Homo sapiens: one gene and its partners. The protein of the gene in region 3 purifies or fractionates together with the protein of the main gene of each other region. This does not show direct contact. Each region holds a gene or a part of one and is shown on either strand. Other genes may lie near its edges. The genes, in order: HNRNPA2B1, DNAJC3, HNRNPH3, PLEKHA7, GSTK1, EPS15L1 and RPRD1B.

Evidence for each region.
Region 1: the proteins of HNRNPH3 (region 3) and HNRNPA2B1 fractionate together in Homo sapiens (co-fractionation; 3 studies listed by BioGRID and IntAct, with this or other methods). This does not show direct contact.
Region 2: the proteins of HNRNPH3 (region 3) and DNAJC3 fractionate together in Homo sapiens (co-fractionation; one large-scale study listed by BioGRID). This does not show direct contact.
Region 4: the proteins of HNRNPH3 (region 3) and PLEKHA7 purify together in Homo sapiens (co-immunoprecipitation; one large-scale study listed by IntAct). This does not show direct contact.
Region 5: the proteins of HNRNPH3 (region 3) and GSTK1 purify together in Homo sapiens (co-immunoprecipitation; one large-scale study listed by IntAct). This does not show direct contact.
Region 6: the proteins of HNRNPH3 (region 3) and EPS15L1 fractionate together in Homo sapiens (co-fractionation; one large-scale study listed by BioGRID). This does not show direct contact.
Region 7: the proteins of HNRNPH3 (region 3) and RPRD1B fractionate together in Homo sapiens (co-fractionation; one large-scale study listed by BioGRID). This does not show direct contact.

Annotation. Positions count from the first base shown.
Region 1 is NC_000007.14:26,190,747-26,194,246, forward strand, and holds part of HNRNPA2B1 (heterogeneous nuclear ribonucleoproteins A2/B1), read right to left. Parts: intron 2,949-3,500; coding exon 2,829-2,948; intron 2,628-2,828; coding exon 2,505-2,627; intron 1,832-2,504; coding exon 1,770-1,831; 3' UTR 1,749-1,769; intron 1,593-1,748; 3' UTR 1-1,592. UniProt on the Homo sapiens protein: Heterogeneous nuclear ribonucleoprotein (hnRNP) that associates with nascent pre-mRNAs, packaging them into hnRNP particles.
Region 2 is NC_000013.11:95,680,139-95,683,638, forward strand, and holds part of DNAJC3 (dnaJ homolog subfamily C member 3 precursor), read left to right. Parts: intron 1-3,500. UniProt on the Homo sapiens protein: Involved in the unfolded protein response (UPR) during endoplasmic reticulum (ER) stress.
Region 3 is NC_000010.11:68,338,564-68,342,063, reverse strand, and holds part of HNRNPH3 (heterogeneous nuclear ribonucleoprotein H3), read right to left. Parts: coding exon 3,377-3,500; intron 2,925-3,376; coding exon 2,838-2,924; intron 2,625-2,837; coding exon 2,509-2,624; intron 953-2,508; exon of another isoform or gene 891-952; coding exon 755-890; intron 480-754; coding exon 384-479; intron 306-383; coding exon 213-305; intron 87-212; coding exon 10-86; 3' UTR 1-9.
Region 4 is NC_000011.10:16,815,415-16,818,914, forward strand, and holds part of PLEKHA7 (pleckstrin homology domain-containing family A member 7), read right to left. Parts: intron 1,909-3,500; coding exon 1,386-1,908; intron 851-1,385; coding exon 764-850; intron 1-763. UniProt on the Homo sapiens protein: Required for zonula adherens biogenesis and maintenance. Acts via its interaction with CAMSAP3, which anchors microtubules at their minus-ends to zonula adherens, leading to the recruitment of KIFC3 kinesin to the junctional site.
Region 5 is NC_000007.14:143,266,441-143,269,615, forward strand, and holds the end of GSTK1 (glutathione S-transferase kappa 1), read left to right. Parts: intron 1-1,176; coding exon 1,177-1,293; intron 1,294-1,650; coding exon 1,651-1,744; intron 1,745-2,347; coding exon 2,348-2,397; 3' UTR 2,398-2,675; downstream 2,676-3,175. UniProt on the Homo sapiens protein: Glutathione S-transferase that catalyzes the conjugation of glutathione to exogenous and endogenous compounds. Significant glutathione conjugating activity is found only with the model substrate, 1-chloro-2,4-dinitrobenzene (CDNB).
Region 6 is NC_000019.10:16,461,971-16,465,470, forward strand, and holds part of EPS15L1 (epidermal growth factor receptor substrate 15-like 1), read right to left. Parts: intron 1-3,500.
Region 7 is NC_000020.11:38,047,246-38,050,745, forward strand, and holds part of RPRD1B (regulation of nuclear pre-mRNA domain-containing protein 1B), read left to right. Parts: intron 1-1,100; exon of another isoform or gene 1,101-1,102; coding exon 1,103-1,236; exon of another isoform or gene 1,237-1,357; coding exon of another isoform or gene 1,358-1,373; intron 1,374-3,500. UniProt on the Homo sapiens protein: Interacts with phosphorylated C-terminal heptapeptide repeat domain (CTD) of the largest RNA polymerase II subunit POLR2A, and participates in dephosphorylation of the CTD by RPAP2. Transcriptional regulator which enhances expression of CCND1.

The DNA of each region.
Region 1 (3,500 bases), on a different chromosome or scaffold from region 3:
AATGCAGACAAGACACTTCACTCAAGTATGAACTACTATCTGAAAATAGATTCAACCATTTTTGCCCTACCTTCTTTCAGTCTCATCCTGATAAGCATGTACAGTTACAACCATAAATACAACAAATGTCTTTAATAAAAACCCCTAGTTCACTCAAAATGTTTGATCCAAGAAATGTGAATACACAAGGGTGTAACGATGGGAAATCTCATGATTTATTGAACTTGCAGCCTAACTTTTACCTACCATTTTACTACCAACACCACTGAAGGAACCAAGAAAAGCTTTATTAATGATCACTTGGCTTGCCTCAGCTGTTGAAATGAAGCACTTTACAGTCTTTGTGGCAGCAGAATATACTTGTCCATGGTTCATATCAATGCTAAAATTCCGGCAGGGAAAAAAATGATATGTTAAGCACCCAAATCTTCACATGGAGGGGGAGGGGGTGGGAAAAGAAGGAAAAAAAGGGAAAAACAACCAAAATAATTTAAGTAAATGACAGATTGGAAAACAGGGTTTATAAAAATTATTCTCTTGAGTTTATAAATTGTTAAACTCAATTTATAGCTATGTTAAACTACGTAAGAACCACTATACTGAAAGACCATTTAAGAGTATTAGTTTATCTTTTAGGGAGGAAAATTAAGAAAGGAAAAGTAAATAAGATCTTACCTAAAGAAGTTTAACTGAAGCTTAGAACTATTTTGCTCTACACCCTCAGCTTTCGTTGGCATCCTTATAAACTACTGTAGTTAAAGTTTTGTAGAAACAGCACAGTTTTTTAAGACTGGCTGAACTTAGTAGCCGTCAAGAGTTCTCTTGTACTAGACCTGTGTCCCTGAAGAGTACCTCGCTGGGGTTATTTCCTTTCCTTGCATTGAAGAAGCAGCATCTAAAAGATCTAAAAAGGTGTTTCTCCTTGCAGAGATATCCCTTAAGTTATCTACATAATTTAATCCTGATGAATTGCAGACAACACACTTACATCTGACCAGCATTTATCTTATACAAATATAACAACAGCTTTGCAACGGACCTTAATTATACTACCCACTCCTTAACTTATTTAAAATAAAAAGTCTATAATTACACAATTTCCTTTAGAATTATTTTATTAAATCATAAATGTACAACAGCTTCTTAACTCTACACACGCACTTAAATTTTTTTAAAGGAAAAACGTTATGTCTTATTACACCATGATCCTGGCTAATAGCTTTTCAAAACTTTGAGAAAAATCTTAAAAAAGGTTTCACATGTCACCTGAAACTTACAAATTTAACATTATCAAAGAAGGAATGCTTCTACACTCTTACAAAGACCACTAGAAAGAAACAACAATTAAAAAGCTAAGAAACTGTCTCAAAGGCATTTTTTTTTACAATCCTTCCTCCACAGTAAGGTAATGTTATTAAATAATCCAATCCATTCACAAAATGGCTCTCTGCATCTGCTCTGGTGTCTTCTGCCATATCACTGCATATTTATGCATGACTGAGATAAGAGTTTCCTTAACATTGTTATTTCGATAACCTGAAGCTGTTCTGTTACCTCTGGGCTCTCATCCTCTCCTATTTATACAGTGAAGCCTGTTTCAACAGAAGTAAAGAGTAAAAAAAAAATAGGTTATGAAATTATCCATCTAACCAGATTTTAAGGAAAGATAACATGATCCTAAAAAGCTTTTACTCCTGCAGCTATGTCTCCCAAGATAATAATAATTGTAAAACTCAAAAGCTACTTACCCATGGCAAATAGGAAGAAGCTCAGTATCGGCTCCTCCCACCATAACCCCCACTTCCTCCACTGCCTCCTGGACCATAGTTTCCTATAATTGTTGGAACAGCAAGAGAAAACAAACTTACTTTGATTTCCCATGATCAGCCTAACACTACAGTTGATTCTATTTTATATCCATCCAGTCTTTTAAACAAGCAGATCCTAATCCTTTGCAGCCAGTTAGCAGAATTACTCAGGAGATAAATTACTCGGGTTCATAGACATTTTTATTTCGTGGCTGACCCTATTCTTTTAAATAAAGGGTCCTTTCACCCTCTCATCCTCATTTGGACTGAGTAAGGGATTTTTTTAAAAGTACATCAAGCCCAAGACAAAGCTAGTTTACTCCTAGCTAAAAACCTCAAAAATAAGCTAAGCAATGGTTTGAATCATGGTTTAAGGATTTAACTTCAAAGACCCTCATTCCAATGTATACCACTTGCAATGTGGGTTGCAACTGTATTTAGCTGTTTATGAGTCCCCACCAGAAATTAAACTACTGAACACCCCCACCTCCAACATCCCTAATCCCAATTTGATGTCATAACTGCTTGCTGAGTACTTCTGTGGAGATTTATGCAAAATTTCTTTATTTTCACTAAGACCGTACATGGAGCACTGCCCACAGTACAAACTACTTAGTATGTTATCTTCCCTTTAAGTCACAAAAGGCTAATCCTTTAATCACAAAAATCTGAATAACCTCAATTTTTATAAATTACCTCCACCATATGGTCCCCCCATGTTCCTGCTACCACCAAAGTTTCCACTCTTCATTGGACCGTAGTTAGAAGGTTGCTGGTTATAATTTCCAAAATCATTGTAATTTCCACTTCCATAATTTCCTATTAAAAAATTGGAATACTCAGAACAATACAAACATTAAACCAAGGACTTAGGACAAAGCTCCCATAAAAACAAATAAAAGCAAACACTTATCCACAAATTTTATGGGCATCTAGTGACAAACATGGAAACAAAAGATCAAGTGTTACAAAGACATTAATTCCAAATTCCCACATAAAGGTTGCAGGTGAATTTATTACCTCCTCCATAGTTGTCATAACCACCTCCGTAGCCCCCACCCTGGTTGCCATATCCAGGTCCTCCACCACCATATCCTCCTCTTCCTCCTCCATAACCGGGGCTACCTCCAAAATTGCCACCTATTATAAAATAAGCCTTTAAGTAATCACTTAATATTTTCAATACCATTTTGAACTGTCTCCTCACATCCATTTCCAGCTTTCCAAGTTTCCATGTGAAATATTTAATGAAATTCCTCTAAAATAGCTTCAAGGACTGAATAACTATCCTTGGTAAACATTTGGTGGCTGGGGTTACTCAGCCAAATGGATAACACCATGTGCACACAGTTAAATACCTGTAATTCCACAGCTTTCCCTCAAAACTAAAAATCTTAAGTATCTTGAAATACTTCATGTATATTGTGGGTAAGGACTGTGAGGCTAGACTAGTAGTGTGGGCTAGAGGGAAAGTAAAAGAGCACTTCCTCCTACTGGCCCAAAAGATAAAGTTTCTATTATGTCTCTCTACGAATTACATATCTTAAAACAATGTTCTCGGTTGGGCACAGTGGCTCATGCCTGTAATCCCAGCACTTTGGGAAGGCCGAGGCGGACGGATCACGAGGTCAAGAGATTGAGACCACCCTGGCTAACACGGTGAAACCCCATCTCTACTAAAAATACAAAACA
Region 2 (3,500 bases), on a different chromosome or scaffold from region 3:
TAAGGAAGTTATTTCATTTCTTTGCTAATGGTTTGTCCTCTTGGTGACTTGAGTAGCAACACAGCCTGGGAACGAAACCTTTTTTCTCTTATCATAGTTTTATCTCTTTTTCTTCCTTAACATGCTATCTGGACCCAATTTTTCTTTATTTCATTGAGCTGATTAAACCATATATTTTGGCCATGGGGAAAAGAATAGTTGAAAATATATAGTTGAAAATCTATACGTATAAAATATTGTGATAAGTTTTATTTGAACCATGATAAGTTTTATTTGAACCTAACCTATTAAAGGTATGTTTTGTCTTTTCTAGGATTTTCTTGACATTATCTAAATAGGGAAAGAATAAAGTAGCAAAAATGAGTGACTTTAAGTAATTTAAATAAATTAAGTATCATAAAAGGTGGTCACATATTTTCTAGAATTATTTTAAATTCTTTAATAAGATAGGCTGTAGTTAGCAGTAGTATCAAAGTTCCAGTTCTCTTGACATAGTTAGTATTTGCTGAGAAACTGCCTGGAAATGCAGTGGTTTTCATTCTGTGAGGTAGGGGAAGTTGTTCTGGGAGGGGATGCACTGTAGTAATTAGGTTTTATTTTCCCATATGAAGTTAATTAATTGTTGTTAAGTTTAATTTCTACTGCTGTGGTCTCTTTTGATTAGTGTCCTGCAGTTAATCTTTGTTTATATGGAAGTATCATGGGAACCCATTCACCTGCTCTTCAGAACGCAAACATTTCAACCATAGATTTATTTTTCTTTCCATATCTTTAGAAAGCTACTTAAAAAAATTAAATCTGATGAGTTTGTATCATTTGGAGTTCTGGAATATGGAGAAGACTCATTTAATCAGTCAGCAAAGGCTTTTACTAACTATATTGCTCTTTGGTGAGGTATATATACGTAGCATAGAACTCATGGCTTTTGCTTTTGAGTTTACAGACCACTTAGGGTTTAAGACATGCATTTGTGAAGCATTCACGTCCTCTTTTTCTCCTTTCCCGCTTTAGACTGAGTGGTCCATTATTGTAGTTAGTGTACTGCAAATGCCCATTTATTTTCTGGCCCCTGTAATCTTCTGTTTTACTCACCTGCCAAAACCCAACACTGGTTAAATTCAACTTGGCCAACTGTTTTTATACCTTATAGGTAAACACGGACGGAGGAAAATGGAGACAACTTTGCTGATTAGTCTCATTTATCTTTATTTTTATTTTCAATTTTTTTTCGAGACAAGGTCTTGCCCTGTCACCCAGGCTGGAGTGCAGTGGCATGATCCTAGCTCAATGTAGGCTTGACCTCCTGGGCTCAAGCAGTCCTCCCATCTCAGCCTCCTGAATAGCTGGGACCACAGGTATGCACCACTGCATCCCCTACTAAGTTTTTAAAATTTTTTGTAGGGACAGGGTCTTCTATGTTGCCCAGGCTGGTCTTGAACTCCTGGGCTCAAGCAATCCTCATCCCTTGGCCTCCCAAAGTGTTGAGATTACAGGCACGAGCCAATGCACCTGGCCCTGATTAGTCTCATTTTAAAGAAACAATCTCAGTCGCAAATGCACATTAAATACTGCTAACACTCCCACAATTCTTTACTATGTCTATTCTTGAAAATCAATATTTCAAACATTTTCCTCCTTTCTGAAGCCTCTAATTTAAACTCTCCTTTCCTCTCTCCCCTACCTCATTCTTTTAGACCTTGTCTTTACTGAGAAAATGAAAGCCATCACAAGGCAAGTTCTTCTTTCTACCTCAAAATTCACTAGCTTATCTACATTTGTACCTATTCTGCTACTTTTTCTCATATTGAAATACATTAAATGTCTCTATTCCCAGATAAATCTAATCTGTGTACTTACACCCTGGATTCCATTTCCTCTCACCTTCTGAAAATGTTGCTCCTACAGTTGTATCTTTGTGCTGCTATAACAAAATACCACAGACTGAGTAATTTATAAAAAAAATTTCAACCTGAATTTTGGAGAGAACATTCAGATAATAGTAGATGCTGAACTTCCTGTACTATCTTTCTTTGGCTAGATTCCACTGTCTTCTGTGTTTCTGCTACAAGACTTCTTTTAGACTCTACCCCACCTTGCTAGAGTCTTGGCTTAGCCTTCTGTTCTTTTTTAGAGAAGAAACTTAGGGCTTTCCTCATTCCTCATATTCTAAGTGCTCCAACCTGAATAACCATCTCTCTCTCTGGGATTGCTCTCTGGTCTGGGTCTGCCACCGCCTTTGCTTGAACTTTAGTATCTTTGACTATGAGTTCTTGCCTCCTTTAGTCTGGTTCTTCCAGTCTTGATTGTAACTCACGTCATACCTTTAACCCCCCACCTTTAAGTTTAAAAAAATCCTTATTTTCTGCTCTCCAAAATATAAGATATTCTAATACTAATTTCAGTGAAAGACATAGTTGGCTACTCTACCTTTTTCCCTGCCCTTGCTGCTTATTTTGCTGACTTATGATCACTGCTTGTCTAAGGAGAAACCTATTGTCTAATGCTGATTAGGAAATGGCATGATGTTTGGTTGTCTTACCTCTCTGAAAATAATGTTTACAGACCATGTGGCAAAGGAATAAAAATTACCTGTGGCTCAAAAGAGAGTGGATTGCAAAAACAGCCAATAATTCGCAAATAATTTGATTTTTCAGATGTGTCTTTATGAATCATTGATCATATGTTTGACTTGATAATTGTTATGTATTTTAGATTTTATTCTGATGAATTATAATACGTTTAAGTAAAAAGGCAAATAGTTAAATTCATTCAACAAATATTGCATACCCACTATGTGCGGGATACTGAATTAGGTGATACAAAGAAGAAAAGACAGCTCCTCCTCTCAAACTTGCTTTTGATAAGTTTTGTGGAGTTGGGACTTTGAGAAGCAGGCAAATTGTGAAAAGCAATATATAGAGAGAGTGATATTGCAAAGTGAAGTCATGTACTTCTGAGTGTGGAAATGCAAAATATAGGAAGATTGAAGGAGCTTTTTTTCCCTCTCTCAAAACAATACAGTGTGAGGGAAGGTTTCACAAAGGAGCCAGCATTTGAGGGCAGAATCTTTTTTTTTGTTTAACTTTATTTTATTTTAGATTCAAGATATACATGTGCAGGTTACATGGGTATATTGTGTAATGGTGGGGTGGTATGATTTAGATCTGTGCCCCACCCAAATCTCATGTTCAGCTGTAATCCCCAGTGTTGGATCTGGGGCCTGGTGGGAAGTGATTGGATCATGGGGGTGGTTTCTAATGGTTTAGCACCATCCCCCAGAGCTGTTATTGTGATAGAATTCTCACAAGATCTGGTTGTTTAAAAGTGTGCAGTATCTCCCCCCTCTCTGTCTTCCTCCGGCTCTGGCCATGTGAAGATGTGCCTACTTCTCCTTTACCTTTTGCCATGATTGTAAATTTCCTGAGGCCTCCCCAGCCATGCTTCATGTACAACCTACAGAACCGTCAGCCAATTAAACCTCTTTTCTTTATAAATTACCC
Region 3 (3,500 bases):
TTTTTGCTTTCAGTACATCCCACGCCATCCACCTCCACTCATGCCGCCTTGCCCATAGTAACCTCCACTGCCTCCACCACCACGGCCTTAAGAAAAAGATATTAAGAATCACTCAGCAGGAGATATCTGCATAAAATAATAAAAGTAATACCTGCACTTTAAAGTTTGCACTACATATGCGGACTAACACAAACTGAACTAGAGATACTTACCATAACCACCCAAACCATCAGGAGTACCATATCCTCCACTGTAATTGTTCCCCATTCCCATTCTTCCAACTGATCCATAGCCTCCCTGATTATCTTTAAAAAGAAAAAAGAAAAAAAATTGAGACTCATCGATAAGCAGCTAACCCTGCATATTTTAAAAACTTTACATACCCATTCCATCTCTTCCGTAGCCTCCCATTCCAGAACCTCCCATGCCAGAGCCGCCTCCAGGAGTAGAATTCAAGAAGAGTTCAATATATCGATGTTCTTTAAGAAAAAAAGAAAGAGTAACAGGGGAGAAAGGAATGATGGATAAAATTCATCAATACAAGCTTTGTAAAAAAGATCAATTAAGTAATATTAAACAAAGTATGCTTATTAATTACTAGTACAGCGATATATAAAGCCCACAGAAAGCCATTATAGAGGTCAAATGGTTTTAAATCCCAACAACTGCCAAGCGTTACCTACAGATCTTAGAGCCTCTTATTTTATAAATTCACGTTTAGGAAATAAGATTGTGTGCCAAAGACACCACTTACGCATGTTATTTTTATCTTTAGACATGGCAGCTACTGCATCTTCATGTGTCACAAACTCTACATCTGCTTCTCCTGTGGCTCTGCCATCAGCTCCAATATCAATATGAACTCGTATTGGATTTAGTGGTGAGAAGAACTAAATAAAAGGAAACACTTATTTACTTTTCTATTGAGAATATTAAAGTAAATTACCACATACCTTGATTTTTCCTCATCAATTAAAACAAACCCTTCCACTGCCCTGTCAGACTAATAACTTAGTCAACTACAGAGGTTCTGTGAATATCAGAGTATACACTTAGGGATAATGTAAAGAATTTACTGCTTTTAAAATAAGCAGATAGGCAGGGCGCAGTGGCTCACGCCTGTAATCCCAGCTACTCAGAAGGCTGAGACAGAGAATCGCTTGAACGCAGGAGGTGGGAGCTGCAGTAAGCAGAGATCACGCCACTGCACTCCAGCCTCAGAGAGACAGAGTGGGAGACTGTCAAAAAAAAAAAGCACACAAACACACAGAGAGAAATACGGGATATCATGATTTGGAACTATGCGGTTTGAATAAAGCCACCTATTTAAGACTATATGAAATTGTTCCCCAAAAGATATCATTTGGTTCTAATCACAAGTTAGCCAGGTTTTAAACTATCATTAAAAGCAGTTGGAACTCAGGCCAGCTGATTCCCAGTAAGATCTAGAGCACACCATTGCTTTTAAAGCCAGAGTCAGTACTTTTGGCCTGAATGGCCATTGGGTCTCTAATGTAACCACTCAACAGGTAGAGGAATGGTGTGACCGGATTTAGCCCATGGACTGAAGTTTGCTGACCTCCTAACAAATCTGAAACCAACCAGTTTCACATCAGTGACAACAGCAGCATCTATTCCTGTTATTTCCAACTCCTCAGTTTCTAATCACCATCTAGCCTAGAAAGCCAAACCAAATCACTAATATTTATATATTCACTCTTTCAAACCCTAATACAGGTCAGGCGCAGTGGCTCACGCCTGTAATCCCAGCACTTTGGGAGGCCAGGGCAGGCGGATCATGAGGTCAGGACCAGCCCGATCAACATGGTGAAACCCCATCTCTACTAAAAATACAAAAAGTTAGCCAGGAGTGGTGGGGTGTGCCCCTGTAATCCCAGCTATTCAGGAGGCTGAGGCAGAAGAATAACTTGAACCCGGGAGGTGGAGGTTGCAGTGAGCCGAGATCGCGCCACTGCACTCTAGCCTGGGCGACAGAGCAAGACTCTGTCTCAAAAAAGAAAACAAAACAAAAAACGGTACAACAAAAGACACCAGCACAAAATGGTATAGTCATCACCATTCTATGCTGATCAGTCTTTCATTATACTCTTAACTGGACTTCACGAATGTAGCTTTTTACTTGTTTGAATCCTATGTAGGTTGACACACAATGGATACAAAAATATCCATCAGTGATTAGAATTAAAGGTAGATCTAATTAGCCAGGCGTGGTGGCGGGCACCTATAGTTCCAGCTACTCGGGAGGCTGAGGCAGGACAATGGCGTGAACCTGGGAGGCAGAGCTTGCAGTGAGCCGAGATCACACCACTGCACTCAGCCTGGGGGACAGAGCAAGACTCCATCTCAAAAAAAGAATTAAAGGTAGATCTATTTTTATATTCAAGGGATTTTGGTATTAAGCTATAAACATGAGAACATTAAGAATGCTTAAAGATTTAGACACCAGGATAAGTATAAAACCACTAATAGTTATTAAAAATTACTCACATTAGCAATGTCATTTTCAGTTGCACGAAAAGGCAACCCTCTCATATGTACGAAATGACCACCATGAAAACCTGAACTTGCATCACCAGCTCCACCATAGCCATGTCCTCCCATACCTGGAAAACACAATTTGCCAAGATTATAAACTATTACAGATACAAGTAGGGAAGTATACATACATACTATACAAGGTATAAAGCTCTATATAGGAATGCACTGAAATTTGTCTGAATTAACTTTATACAAGTTTCCTATATTACCACTAAGAGCTTGCAAAGCAAATACTAAAATTTACCTATGAATAAAAATGTCTTTAATATTTATTTTACCTCTTCCATCTCTCATTCTGTCATCAAAGCCATCATTCCCATAGCCGTAATTATTATAGCCACCATAGTCATCAAAACCTCCATAACCTGTGTAATTTAAGGAGAAACACATGACTACACACTTTCCAGAGATAAATTTTATAATTTAGTTTACAAAAACATTTTGTGGTAACAGTCTGTGTAACTTGATTGCAAGTTTGCAATTCCCAACTTAAAACCTATGAAAAAAGCAGTCAACGTGATGGAAATTTAAAATCTCAGAAAGTTAATTAAGTTCAGACATGTAAATTAAATTTCATCCTTAGGCAAAAAAAGGTCAAAATATGCCAACATCTTAATTTTAATTTCTGTGTAAGTTTTCTAGGTGCCAATATGTGCATCAGTCAAGTCCCACAGCTAGCCATGGGAATCCGTATTTTCATGAACAGGTTTTAAAACCTAATAGGTACTGAAATTACTGCCATTTCTGTATTTCTTGACAAAGTGTCAGGAACATTAAGAAAATGACAACAGAACCTTTGTTCATTAGATACACATACCACCATCATATCCATCACCTCCTCGTCGCATTCTGTCATACATACTTCCACGCCCAGCTCCATAATAACCCCCTCTTCCTCCTATTGGTCTATCATATGGTCCCGGTCGCTGTCCCAGCAATCT
Region 4 (3,500 bases), on a different chromosome or scaffold from region 3:
CTGTGTCAATTCTGTCATTAGGACAAATAAAGGCACTGGCAGTAAAAGGGCTTCAGGAAGTTTTTTTCAGGAAAGCAACAACCAACAGTGCAACCTCACCCAGACTCAAGCTTTTTTTTTCTTCTGCTTTGAGACAGTCTTGCTTTGTCACCCAGGCTGGAGTGCAGCAGCGTGATCTCGGCTCACTGCAAACTCCACCTCCTGAGTTCTCGTATCTCAGCCTTCCGAATAGCTGGGATCACAGGAGTGTACCACCACACCCAGATAGTTTTTGTATTTTTAGTAGAGACGGGGTTTCGCCATGTTTGCTAGGCTGGTCTTGAACTCCTGGCCTCAAATGATCCACCCACCTCGGCCTCCCAAAGTGGTAGGATTACAAGTATGAACAACCACACCTGGTCTCAGACTCGAGCTTTGAAGATTGAGTTAACTAGTTAACTAATCAAAGATCAGGGAAGAAAGGAGAGGCACTGCCTGTGGAAAAAGGTGGGTAGCTGAAAAATGTTTCTGGCAAAATTCATCTTGAAAGAGGAGATAAGCCTAATATTCCCCTACATTTCCCTGATACGCTCTTCCCCTTCACTGGGGACCCAGTGACAGCCAGGTGACCCTAAGCAAGTCATTCAACTTCTCTGAGCCTCAGTTTCCTCATCTCTAATATGGGGGTTAATAGCTGCCCTCTGGACTGCATTGTACTAACTCAGAGGAAGGAAAATGTTGATGAGATAGGGCTTTGCAGGCTATGTCTTGTCATTCACCCTACCGATTTTCCATGTAAACTGGGAGCGCTGACGGTGTGGGTCATGTAACCCATGGAGGGCATGGAGCGTCGGTCCACATGAGATGAGTTCTGCAAGTGGGGAGACAAGAAGTCACACTGGAGCCCAAACCTCTGCCACTCACTCCCAGGGAAGCCGCCCCATGCCATGTCCCCTCTGAGCCCCAGACTTCTCATCTATGAAATGAGCACACACATCTTACTCTCAGGGTTAGAACACTAAACTGTGAAAGCCTCTTGGAAAGTGAAAACTTAAGCTGGATTGTTATAATTTAACTGACTGGACACAGATGTCTTTTCCTGCCTTTCAAGATGCAAGGAAGCTGACTTGTAGTTGTGTGACCCTGTGCAAGTTACTTTGTCTCTCAGCGCCTCAGAGTTCTCATCTTTGAAATGGGCATAAACATAGCACCTACCTCACAGGGTTGTGGTGAGAATTTAAAGCGAAGCCCTTGGGAACTGTGCCTGGCATCTATTATTAAAATGTACTGCCTAAGTATTAGCTATCATTATTATCCCAAATTACTCAAATTTGTGTTCAAACCAGGCAAAGCTCCTGGCGCCCTCATGATGACCCAGCAGCCTGGCAGAGCTTCCCGAGCCTCACCTTGACAGCGTGGCCCCGTGCCCTCCTTGGAGAATCCCCCAGCGAGATGTCCACACTCCTCCTCTGGTCCGGTGGCTTCACTGTGACTCGCTCTGCTGGTGTGTGTGGCCGCCGGGGTGGGAAGACCCTTGGGGGTCCTGGGGGAGGGATGTCCGAGGGAGATGGAGGCACAGAGATGGAGCGGGGCACCTCTAGCATGCTCCTGCTCCGGCCCTGGTCGGTGAACTCTGGGGAGCCAAGGCAGATGGGCGCTGTGGGGCTGCCGTGCCGGAACTGCTGGCGCTGCTGCCACTCGTAGAGCTGCCACACGGTGCCATCCCGGTGCGCCCGGCGCTCTTCACTCGACATCTTCAGGTGGCTGGCTCGGTCCTGCGCATACTTGTAGTCACTTGGCAGGTTTCGGGGAGGTGGCGAGGAGCCCCCCGAGGGGTGTCGGGTGCTCTTGGGAAGAGTCTGGTAGTTTTCTGGGAAGGACAGGGATTGGCCAGGACCCTGGCGAGGAAGCGTCTGGTCCAAGGGAAGACTGAGGAGAAAGGGTAAGAACGGGTCAGGCAACCAAGCGAGGGTTCTGCAGGCTTTGGGGAACATATCTAAGTAAACCCACAAAGCTGGGCATGTGGGACAGTCCTGTAAGAACCTCAAAAGAATGATCAAGGCCGACATCCAGGACTTCAGTCACTTCCCCTTTTGGCAGACGACTCCAAAACCATTTTTCTCTGTCAACTTCCTCTGCCAGGACAACTTGGCTACCCCATGCCCATCACTTGGAGTGCAATGTGATTAAACCTGGCTTTTCCTTCTCTCTCCGCTGCCAGCAGTCAGCTCTTTCAATGGCTATGCATATTTATAGGAAAGGCCTCACAATTCTCCAAGTTACCAAGATTTTCTCTCTGCCTGGTATCCTTAGCACCAAGTTCCAGAGGTTCATAAAGGAAGTGGTTGGCATCAGTTCTCTTTTTTCTGGACTCTTCTAGTCCAGATACTGATTAATTATCTCCCTCCAGACAACTCTGAGATGCTCCTAATGGGTTTCCACTTTGTCCACAGTCAAGTGCTCTGATCATATCAGTTCCTTGCTGCAAAAACTTCCATGGCTCCTTGTCCCTTCTGAAATAAAGTCTAAACTCCTCAGCCTGGTACTCACAGCTCGCTAGCAGCTGACCTCAACACCCACCTTGCAGGCCTGCTGTTTTCTCACTGCTCTTCCTACGGGCCACGCCAAATGCCTAGGGCCCAAAACTGAAGGAAGTACTCCATCTCAGGGTCACCCCTACACCTGCTGGTGCCTGACAGCCTCACCCTAGTCCCGTCCCAGCCTCCTCCACACCTTAGCAACATCTTGCAACGGAAAAAGGAAAAAGGAGTCTAACCTGGGTTTGAAGCCAAGCTTGACACTTGCTGGCTTTGTGACCCTAGGCAGCTCACCTGACTGCTCTGACCTTCCGTTTCCTTACTTGTAACAGGAGGATAGTATTACCTGCCTCATAAGGCTCTTCTGAGGAATCAATGAGACAGGTTAGGAAATGCAACCCCCACATCTGATACACAGAAGGTCCTTCACTAACGTGTGTACCCTTCCTGCCCTTCTTACTCTTATAACACTGTTCTTCCCTCCCCCTGCCTGGATGGTCTCCCCTTGCTCTATTTACCCAAGTCTTACTCATTCTCTAGGATGCTGGCTCATGCCTTCCCCCACGTGGACCTTCTGTAGTGCCACAGCCCTCAGTGATCCAACTCTGTTTGACCTCGTCATCACACTGCCTGTAACTTTTCCAAGGTCCTATATTGATGTGATCTTTTCATACTTCCAAGACATGTTTTCCCAGGCCAAGGTGAAAAATTCTTGAAAGACAGGAACTGTGTTTCACACCGTGGTATTGTCCACAGTCTAAGAAAGTCCTGTGCGTAATTAGCCCTTCAATAAACACTCCAGCACACAAAACTGGATATGACTTCAAAAACTAACACCAACTAGCCATCTTATTTTCTTTCTTTTTTTTTTCTCTCTTTTTTTTCTTTTTTGAGACAGAGTCTTGCTCTTTTGCCCAGGCTGGAGTGCAGTGGTGCAATCTCTGCTCACTGCAACCTTCGCCTCCTGGGTTCAAGTGATTCTCC
Region 5 (3,175 bases), on a different chromosome or scaffold from region 3:
GTAGGACATAATTCTCTAATTTAACCAAGTCAAAGATAGTGTCTCATTAGGACAGGCTACATGAATTCCTGGGTCCCACTTCTGATCTAGGAAGTCAAGTTGCAGTGGTTGTCAATCTTGGCTGTGAATTAAAATCACCTGGAGCACCTTGGCGCTAACCCTTTCCCCTGGAATTGTGATGTAATTGTTCTTGTTCTTTTTTTTCTTTCTTTCTTTTTTTTTTTTTTTTTTTTTTTTTTGAGACAGTGTCTTGCTTTGTCACCCAGGCTGGGGTGCAGTGGCATGATCATGGCTCACTGCAGACTCAACCTCTTGGGCTCAAGTGATCTCGCATCTCAGCCTTACGAGTAGCTGGGACTTCAAGCATGTGCCACCATGCCTAATTTTTTAAAAATTTTTTGTAGAGATGGGGGTTTCACTTTGCTGCCCAGGCTGGTCTCGAACTCCTGGGCTGAAGCAATCTCCTGCCTCAGTCTCCCAAAGTGCTAGAATTACAGGCATGAGCCACAGTGCTTGGATCTAGTTCTAAGGGATGACCTCACGTGGAGATTTTTTAAAGCTCCTCAGGAGTTTCAGATGGGCAGCCAAAGTTAAGAACCATCTATCCCAAACTATACCAACAAACCACAAACTGAAGCCTTTATCTTTGTCTTGAAGCCAGGTAGGTGGCTGCAGCCATGTGCCTTGTTACAAAGTTCTCAGGAAGTTCCACTGGAATTACAGCCTAGCTCTTGATTCAAAAAAAGCATGAGATACTTAGGAACTGTGAGAGGTAGGAAGGAAAGAGCCCTGGACTTGAATTCTAGAGACCTGGATTCTAGTGTTGGCTCTGCTACCAACATGCTCTGTAACTCTGAGCAAGTAATGTATCACCTCTGGATTCAGGCTCTTCATTTGTGAAATAAAGAGGTCTATCTAGCTGCTCTCTAAGATGTCCGCTGGTGTTAATTTCTGTGATTGACTCTGTGCCATCTACCTTTTCTCCTTTTCCACCCATCTCAAGATTTGGGATAAAGGAAATAGTTCCTCTTGGCAAGGACAGATCTCCACTTGTGGGTGGGTAAGGGCATTGCCAGCAAAACTTGGGGGCAGAAAATAAAAAGACCAGAGTTTTCCTCTGAGATCCCCATCCAATATCATGCAGACACAGTTGTATTCCCTACTATATTCCCTTAGGCTGCAGAGAAGGCTGGTATGTCTGCAGAACAAGCCCAGGGACTTCTGGAAAAGATCGCAACGCCAAAGGTGAAGAACCAGCTCAAGGAGACCACTGAGGCAGCCTGCAGATACGGAGTGAGCAGCTCTTTATGTGTGTTCCCAGCACCCATCCTGAAGATGGAGACTTGAGAATCTCTAAGTTTGAGTCCTTATGCTCCTGTACAAAAGCCCCCTTTCCAAGTGTTCTCCTCAGTGCTCTTAAACAACCCTCATCTTCTTCCTTCTTTTCCTTGGGCTCAGGGAAAGGAAGGGAAGGAGATGCACAGTGAGAGAAAAGAGAGCATCTTAGAAACAGGAAGGCACCTGGGGCCACAGAGCCTCTTAGACCTCTTTGCTTCTGTGAACTCAGAAAAGTACTGACTCAAAGGTTTCAACCCCTGCCTAATACCTGCTCCTTTGCCTTCCTCCTTGCATTGTAACTGCTTTCTCCAGGCCTTTGGGCTGCCCATCACCGTGGCCCATGTGGATGGCCAAACCCACATGTTATTTGGCTCTGACCGGATGGAGCTGCTGGCGCACCTGCTGGGTAAGTAAGTTAAAGAATCAACCCTGAGCCAGGTGCAGTGGCTCACGCCTGTAATCCCAGCACTTTGGTAGGCTGAGGCGAGCAGAGCACGAGTTCAGGAGATTAAGACCATCCTGGCCAACATGGTGAAACCCCGTCTCTACTAAAAATATAAAAATTAGCTGGGACTACAGCTGCCTCAGTGGGAGGCTGAGGCAGGAGAATCACTTGAACCTGGGAGGCGGAGGTTGCAGTGAGCCGAGATCGCGCCACTGCACTCCAGCCTGGGTGACAAAGCAAGACTCCGTCTCAAAAAATAAAAAGATTCAACCCTGAGCTGCCTTTGACCCCAGCTCCACACCCACTATATCAGTTGACCAGAAGGAGGGGCTCAGAGCAAAAAAATATTCTTGGCACTTCCAGTAACAAAGCGTTATGCAGTCAGTGCTGTTCAAGGTTGAGTGGGCAGGGGCTGTCTTCAACCCCATAAAAGAAAAGGAAGCCTTCTATACCTTGAAGCCAAGCAAAAGTCTTTCTAGAAAACCCCTGGGACCTTGTGGGACCAACTCCTGCTGCCAGAACACCTGAGAACAGTGTGCAGAGTCTGTTGTTTTCTTCATCCAGGAGAGAAGTGGATGGGCCCTATACCTCCAGCCGTGAATGCCAGACTTTAAGATTGCCCGGAGGAAGCAAACTCTTCGTATAAAAAAAGCAGGCCATCTGCTTAACCCTTGGCTCCACCATAAGGCACTGGGACTCGGATTTCTCTATCTGATAGAGGTATTTTCTGTGGCCCTGGGAGCTGTCTGTCTTTCCCCTACCCCCAAGGATGCCAGGAAGACGTCCACCATTAGCCATGTGGCAACCTTTACTTCTATGCCTCACAAGTGCCTTTCAGAGAGCCCCAATTCTGCTTTCCCACAAAATAAACCTAATGCCATCAGGCAAAACATTTCTGTGTCTGTATCTGCCCTGGTATATTCTCATTCCTGGGGTCACATCCTGCCTACTCTAGGGGTAGGTGAAGGAGAGCTGTTTCAGTATTTCCAGCCAGACCAGCCATGCAGCCCACCTTGAGCAGCTTGTGCGGTGGAAGAAGTGAGAATAGTCCCCCGTTCTCTCACACAGAAACTCCCCTGGTCTCTCTATCAGCAACAGAAAACCAAGCCAGATGGACTTTGCAACTAATCAAGTTTGGGATTTACTGTCTTCTGACCAACCACAGTGACTGAGATGGGGCTGGGACCAGAAGCCCAGTGGGAGTGAACAGCCGAGGGAACCAGAGTCTGGCTGAGCTTGTGGCCAGATATTTAAACTGGGTCCAGCCACACCTGCAAAACCAGGGCAAGGCAGTACCGGGAAACTGGCTGGAGTTGCTGCGGTTTGGGGAAGTTGCACACCCTTTCATAGATACCTCCCTTAACCCTCAGTGCAGATTCTGAGAAAACTCCA
Region 6 (3,500 bases), on a different chromosome or scaffold from region 3:
TGCCAGGAGCCCAGATTTCAGGGGCTGGGAACCCAGCAGGGAGCAGGAAAGACAGAGCTCCTCGACCCTCCCGGAGCCCATGGTGTGGCAATCATAGGACAAAATGGTGGCTTTGGAGCCCATGGTCTGATTCAGACGCCTGTTCTCCATGGGGGTCTGACCAGTTGTTTTACCTCTCTCCCTCTCAGTTTCCTCATCTAGAAACAAGCACAGGGACAATGGCACCATTGTTGGTCCCACAACATTCCCTCACTCCTGCATCAGACCTGTGCCCCAAATCTCTCCCCAGGGCCCAGAGCTGCCTGCCTGGGCCCACTCACTGGTGAGGGCAGTCAGGGTACCACCAGGGCTGGGGTCCCGTTGCCACCTGTTCTGGGAGACCAGGTTACCAGAATCAGGGAAGTGGGGGGGAGGGCATGGTGGCTCACACCTGTAATCCCAGCACTTTGGGGGGCCAAGGTGGGTGGATCACTAGAGGCCAGGAGTTCGAGACCAGCCTGGCCAACATGGTGAAACCCTGTCTCTACTAAAAATACAAAAATACAAAAAAATTAGCCAGGCTTGGTGGTGTGCACCTGTAATCCCAGCTACTTGGGAGGCTGAGGCAGAATTGCTTGAGCCCAGATGGCGGAAGCTGCAGTGAGCCAAGATCATGCCATTACACTCCAGCCTGGGTGACAAAGCGGGACTCCACCTCAAGAAAAAATAAAGTAAAACAAAGAATCAGGGAAGTGGGACTCTGAGAAGGCAGAGAGGGGGCCAGGAAGCTGTGAAGATGGTGGTGGGAGACAGGGCCTGTGCAAAGGGTGGGGGCAGGACACTGGTCCACGCAGTGTACAGCCAGTCAGAGAGGCTGCACCCAGCTGCTTCCTCCAGGCCTGTTGGAACAGAGGAGGGAAAAGACAAAAGGAGGCACAGGCGCCCTCTTCCTCCTGTCCTTTATTCCCAGCCCAGTGGAGGTGATTCATCCCACCGCTGTGGGTGCCACCTGACTTCCACGAGTGTGTCACACTATGTCCTAATTTTCTGTGTGCCTGGGTGCCCAGCTGCAGTTGAGCTGACCTGGAGGGTGGGGCTCGGTTTTATTTATCTTGGTCCCAAGACAGCACACAGTAGCTCAGCAGACAGAATCTCATGGTGCCCCAGCCCCAGAGCTGGTCTTCTTTTTGACTGTACCTAAATGTGGGGTCTCACGTGGCTTGGAGGGTTTCCTGCAAAGTGATGGGTTTTGACTCAACTGACACAGCCACAGCCCACCAGGCTCTGCCCACCAGGCACTCCCACTGCTGCTGTCCTGGCTCCCTGAAGGTGGCCTCAACCTGACGGTTGCAGACACTATGCCTGCTTCTTCCCCCTGCTTCCTCTCCCACCTAGACCCTCACCTGTCCAAACAGCTACCCCACATATTCCTTTCACCCCCAGCCCTTTCTACTCTTCCTGAAACAACCTCAGGCCAGGTTCCTCTTGATCACTTCATGCCCATATCACAGAGACTGTCTCGGAGCTAGAACCCAGCTCCAAGCACTCCCTGTGTAAGCAGCCAGATCATCTAAAGGTGTCACTCCTCAAGAACCTGCCATAGCTCCCTACTGCCTCTCATAATGTGGCCCATGCTACTCTTCCCTCAACAGATGATTGTTGAGCACCTGAGTGCCAGCTGCAGCCTGGCAAACAAGGATGAATAAAACAGGCACAGTCTCTGCCCTTGTGGACCTAGTCTAGGTGGTTGGGGAAGACAGACCATCAATCAACCCCGCAAAGAGAAAATTATAAACGGCTAAATGGAAAAGGTGTCCATCTCCACCAGTGGTAACAGAGATGCTGGGCCAGTTTGTCAGGAAAGGCTTCCCTGAGGAAGTGATGCCCCAGCTGATATGAAAAGGTGTAGGGATTCACCAGAGGATGAAGGGTTTGGAAAGAGCATTCCAGAGAGAGGGAATAGCAGATGCAAACGCCTTGAGGCAAGATGAAGGATCGCCTGCGCAGATGACAGAAAGAGGGGCCAGGGGGCCACAGAGCAGAGGGAATGAGGACTGCAGGCCTGGGAAACACGGGGAGCAGGTGTGCTGTCAGCTGCCGGTAGCAGCGCCTGATCCAGCCTGGCTGGTGTGCCCAAGAGGAGGAGAAGTGACTTTATGTCAGCCTGACCTGCAGGCAGTCAGTAAACAGATTCTGTTATCAGGTCTACATTCCACACCACAGGCAGTGCAGATGGAAATCCGAGACAAATGTCTGTGGTCATCTGTGACCTTTACTTTCACCCCAAAGCTTGTAGTATCAAGAGCTGGGACTCCTATGAAGGGAAAAGCCCAAAGAAGCTTTAAGAGCTAATGGTCTGCACTCCATGCAGGAGCAAACTTCAGGGCCACCACTCTGACCAGCGGTAAAACCCAGTCCAGCGCGAAGGACAGTGGGCAGGTCTCAGCTCCTCAGCCCCCACCAGCCACTGGCCACTCTCTCGGCAAGCAGACATCCTGTCAGTTCGGCCGATTTGTAGCCCAGACACAAACTCTCACGTCTTATTTACCAAAAGACCTTCCTCCTCTCATCCCTGAGCTGCCTAAATTAAAGGAAGGACATGAACCCCAAAGTCCCAGCCGCATGTTTTGGCCCTTTGACCTAGACCTGCAGCCTCTCAGCTCTGGCTCAGTCCTCTTTGCCTCCGTGTGAAAGGCTATTCCCCATGGCCTAGACCAGGGGTGTCCAATCTTTTGGCTTCCCTGGGCCACACTAGAATTGTCTTGGGCCACACATAAAATACACTAACACTAACACTAACACTAACACTAACACTAACACTAATGATAGCTGATGAGCTTTAAAAAATTCACGGGTGGGCATGGTGGCTCACGCCTGTAATCCCAGCACTTTGGGAGGCCAAGGCGGGCAGATCACAAGGTCAGATCGAGACCATCCTGCCTAACCAGTGAAACCCCGTCTCTACTAAAAATACAAAAAATTAGCCAGGTGTGGTGGCGGGTGCCTGTAGTCCCAGCTACGCAGGAGGCTGAGGCAGTAGAATGGCATGAACCCAGGAGGCGGAGCTTGCAGTGAGCCGAAATTGCACCACTGCACTCCAGCCTGGGCAACAGAGCGAGACTTAGTCTCAAAAAAAAAAAAAAAATTCACAAGAAAACCTCATAATGTTTTAGGAAAGTTTACAAATTTGTGTTGGGCTGCATTCAAAGCCATCCTGGGCCACATGCAGCCATGGGTTGGACAAGCTTGGCCTACACCAAACACGCCCTCTCCTCCATACAACCATGTCCAACACCCAAATGGAAGCCAGTCATCTGCCCCTCCTGCAGCTTGGACCACCCGTGACCTGAGCCTCTGCTGTGGGCCGGGCCTGGACAACTCAATTCTGCATGGGCCAGGAGCACTGATTACCACTCTGGCAGGGAAACCTTTGGATTCTCCTAAAGACAACTGGCTGGGAGTGGTGGCTCACACCTGTAATCTCAGCGCTTTGGAGGCAGAGGCAGGAGGATCACTTGAGG
Region 7 (3,500 bases), on a different chromosome or scaffold from region 3:
TTTTATGTACTCTGATTGAGTCCTTTAGTCAGTGAAATTTACCACTAATAATTCATAAGTGAGACATTCTGACTGGGCTAGGCTGAAACCTAAGTTCTCCTTGAGTTTATGAAAGCGTTGTCATGGTCGGGTGTGAATAGAGTTCCCATCTCAGTTGAATTGGCATGGTTTCTCCTTGAAGTTCCTATTAAAAGCCATTTAACTTAGATACTAAGATGTCGAGGTATCCCTTCTTGTTTAAAGTCATTCAGTATAAGATCGTTGCCATTTAAACCCCCTCACAAAACAGAAGATTTCATGGTAACAGTGCATGGTGACTGAATTCACTTTGCTTTCAGAAAGTCTAACCCAATCTTCTGCTTGCTGTCTGAGATTTTATTGTAGGCAATTGGTTCTCAGTGAGTGCTAGTTATAGTCCTTTATATCCTGTTTCAGGAGTTAACATGTCAGGGGAAAACATTTTCTAACTTCTAATTCATATCCTTTGATATAAATTATGAAGGACTGCATTATTAAGTGTGTTCTAAGATTATCAGATACCTTTGTGTGAACCTGGACTATGGACTTAGCCCAGAATTAAAATAATTATGCAGTGGTTAGAACTGGAATGATTCTTGACATATACATGTATGTGATTGTGTTTATACATGTAGAGGTGTTGGTGTGTTAGAATTGATGAGTTGCAGTGAATTTATTTCCTGTTTTAAACATCTGGTTTTTTAAAATCATTTTTCTATCTTTAAGAGTTCTGATCCACTTTTAATTTCCAGCAGAATGTCTGGCATTTTAATTAACGTCTTCTTAAAAAGCAAGCTATCACAACTGATAAGATGGAGTTTTGATAATTTTCTGTCTGTAAAAATTGGCCATTGACTTTTGGTCCTATTTGATTTCAATTATGGCATGATCCCTCCCACTGCACGAAGAATGTAGTTTGTGGTCAAGTTTTGGGTATCCAGGTATTACAATATGTACCTTATTTGGTTTTAAATGTGTAAATCATTTAGTCAGTTGTTGATTTCTTTTTTTTTTAAGTAGGTCTGTCCTAATTAAAAGCAAAAAATCTTAAGCTTATATATATCTTTTCATCTTTTCTGGGCAGAGAGGCAGATGAAGGCTGTAAAAAACCTTTAGAAAGATTGCTGAACATCTGGCAAGAACGAAGTGTGTATGGCGGCGAGTTCATACAGCAGCTGAAGCTGTCTATGGAGGACTCCAAGAGCCCTCCCCCCAAAGGTAGAAACATCACCACATGTTTACAGCTCTTGGTCTTTGCCTACTTTCGAATCAAATATGAAAAGCTGCAGTGGGGTTTGCTGTGAACCACCAGCGATTTTATGATTCTTCAGAGAGACAGATGATCATGAATGATGGTGAGAATTTATGTAGTGCTCACAGCGTGTAAGCCTGGTTCTAGTATTCATGCTATTCATCCTCTCACACCCTGACTTTTGCTCTCTGTTCTCCTTGGCTTGCTTCTGTCTTTCAGAGACTTTCCTTGCACAAGGAAAGGAACAACAAAGTTGTTCAGAGTTGTGGTGAACTAGGAAGTAGCCTGGACTAAGATTTTGTCCTTGCTCTGCCATTAACTACAATAGGACCTTGGATAAGTTTCTTAGCTTTTTAAGAACTTGATTTAATTAAATGTAGATGTGCTTTTGAAACATATCCTTAGGATTGTCAGCATGGTGTCTGTCTAAAGTTGATTGTTTGTTTGTTTTGGAGACAGAGTCTCACCCTGTCATCCAGGCTGGAGTGCAGTGGCGTGATCTCGGCTCACTGCAACCTCCGCCTCCTGGGTTCGAGCCATTCTCCTGCCCCAGCCTCCTGAGTAGCTGAGATTCAGGCACCTGCCACAACACCCGGCTAATTTTTGTATTTTTAGAAGAGACGGGGTTTCACCATGTTTGCCAGGCTGGTCTCAAACTCCTGACCTCAAGTGATCTGCCCGCCTCGGCCTCCCAAAGTGCTGGATTACAGGTGTGAGTCACTGCGCCCAGCTTAAAACTGATTTTGATCTTTACTGAACCCAGGATATCTTTAGGAAGTGCATCTGTGTGTGAATTTTGCAAAGCCCTTAATAAGAGCTTATATTATTTTTTCTTTTTTCTTTCTTTTTTTCTTTTTTTTTTTTTTTTTTTTTGAGACAGAGTCTTGCTTTGTTACCTGGGCTGGAGTGCGGTGGTATGATCTCAGCTCACTGCAACCTCCGCCTCCCGGGTTCAAGCAGTTCTTTGCCTCAGCCTCCCGAGTAGCTGGAATTACAGGCACCTGCCACCATGCCCAGCTAATTTTTGTATTTTTGGTAGAGACAGGGTTTCACCATCTTGGCCAGGCTGGTCTTGAACTCCTGACCTCGTGATCCACCCGCCTCAGCCTCCCAAAGTGCTGATATTATAGGCGTGAGCCACCTCACCTGGCCTATTTTTTTCTTTAAAGAGTAAGATCAAATGTTGTTTAGTTACTTGGCTTCTGGTTAGTTGTGGTTTAATTCTAGTTGGCATGACATGTTTCTTAGCTACAGATCTGATCTGCCTGCATACATGTTTCCTGGAGGATCGAGTCCAAGTACTGATAGTATTGAAGACCCTTTCTATCTGAACTAGCCTGTTTTTCCAGATTCTTCTCCTGCCACTTCCTCACTTACACTGTATTCTTTGGCCAAACTGAATTGCCGACAGTTTACCCTCTGGATGCTCTGTTGGCACTGCTTCCTTTCCATCTGCTGTTACCTCTACTTGATGTCCTTCTACCGCTTTCACTGTGTGATGAACTCATTCTCCAAGAATGCAACTCTCATTCTGACATCTTCCCTGGCTTGTCTGGGCCCATGTGGTCATTCCCTCCTTGTTCTCTGGTACTTTATACATGCATCTGCTATAGAACCTAGTCATGATTAGCATGTGTGACAGTATCCTTCACTGAGTAACCCTTTTGTGTACCCTTCATGATCCTTTCCAGGTCTGGAATTATTTGCATTTTGCAGTGGGTAACTTTCCTGTGAAACCAAAGGTTAGAGGCTTTCTGTGAATGACATAAGTGCTTTCAGACTGCAGGTCATTGTTGTTTTACTTGGTGTTGCTAGAAGATAATTTTAGGATCACTCAGGTGATTGGTAGCTTCTGAAAAGCAAGATGTTTCCTGCTTTGGATTCTGGTGTTTTTATTGTGTCCTTTGGAGGTCTTCAGTACAGCTTTGGGGAATTACTCAGCATTCTTTACTCTGCCTTAGAGTTCATTGGTAAACAGTGCTGGTTTTTAAGAACACCTTTGGGCAAGTAGGAGAGCCTTGAAAGAGGATGTTTGAAGCTAATGTTGAATTTCAATTTAATGTACATTTGCTGGACACATACTTTGAATAAACAGATATGCTAGATGCTATAGGAAAGAGGGAGAAAAGAGTGAGGAATAGGTTTGCACTCTGGGAATGTGTGGAATTTGTGGCAGTGATAGTATTGGGAATAGCTTCAGTGGGTTTCTGATTTTTTTTTGAAAGTCTAG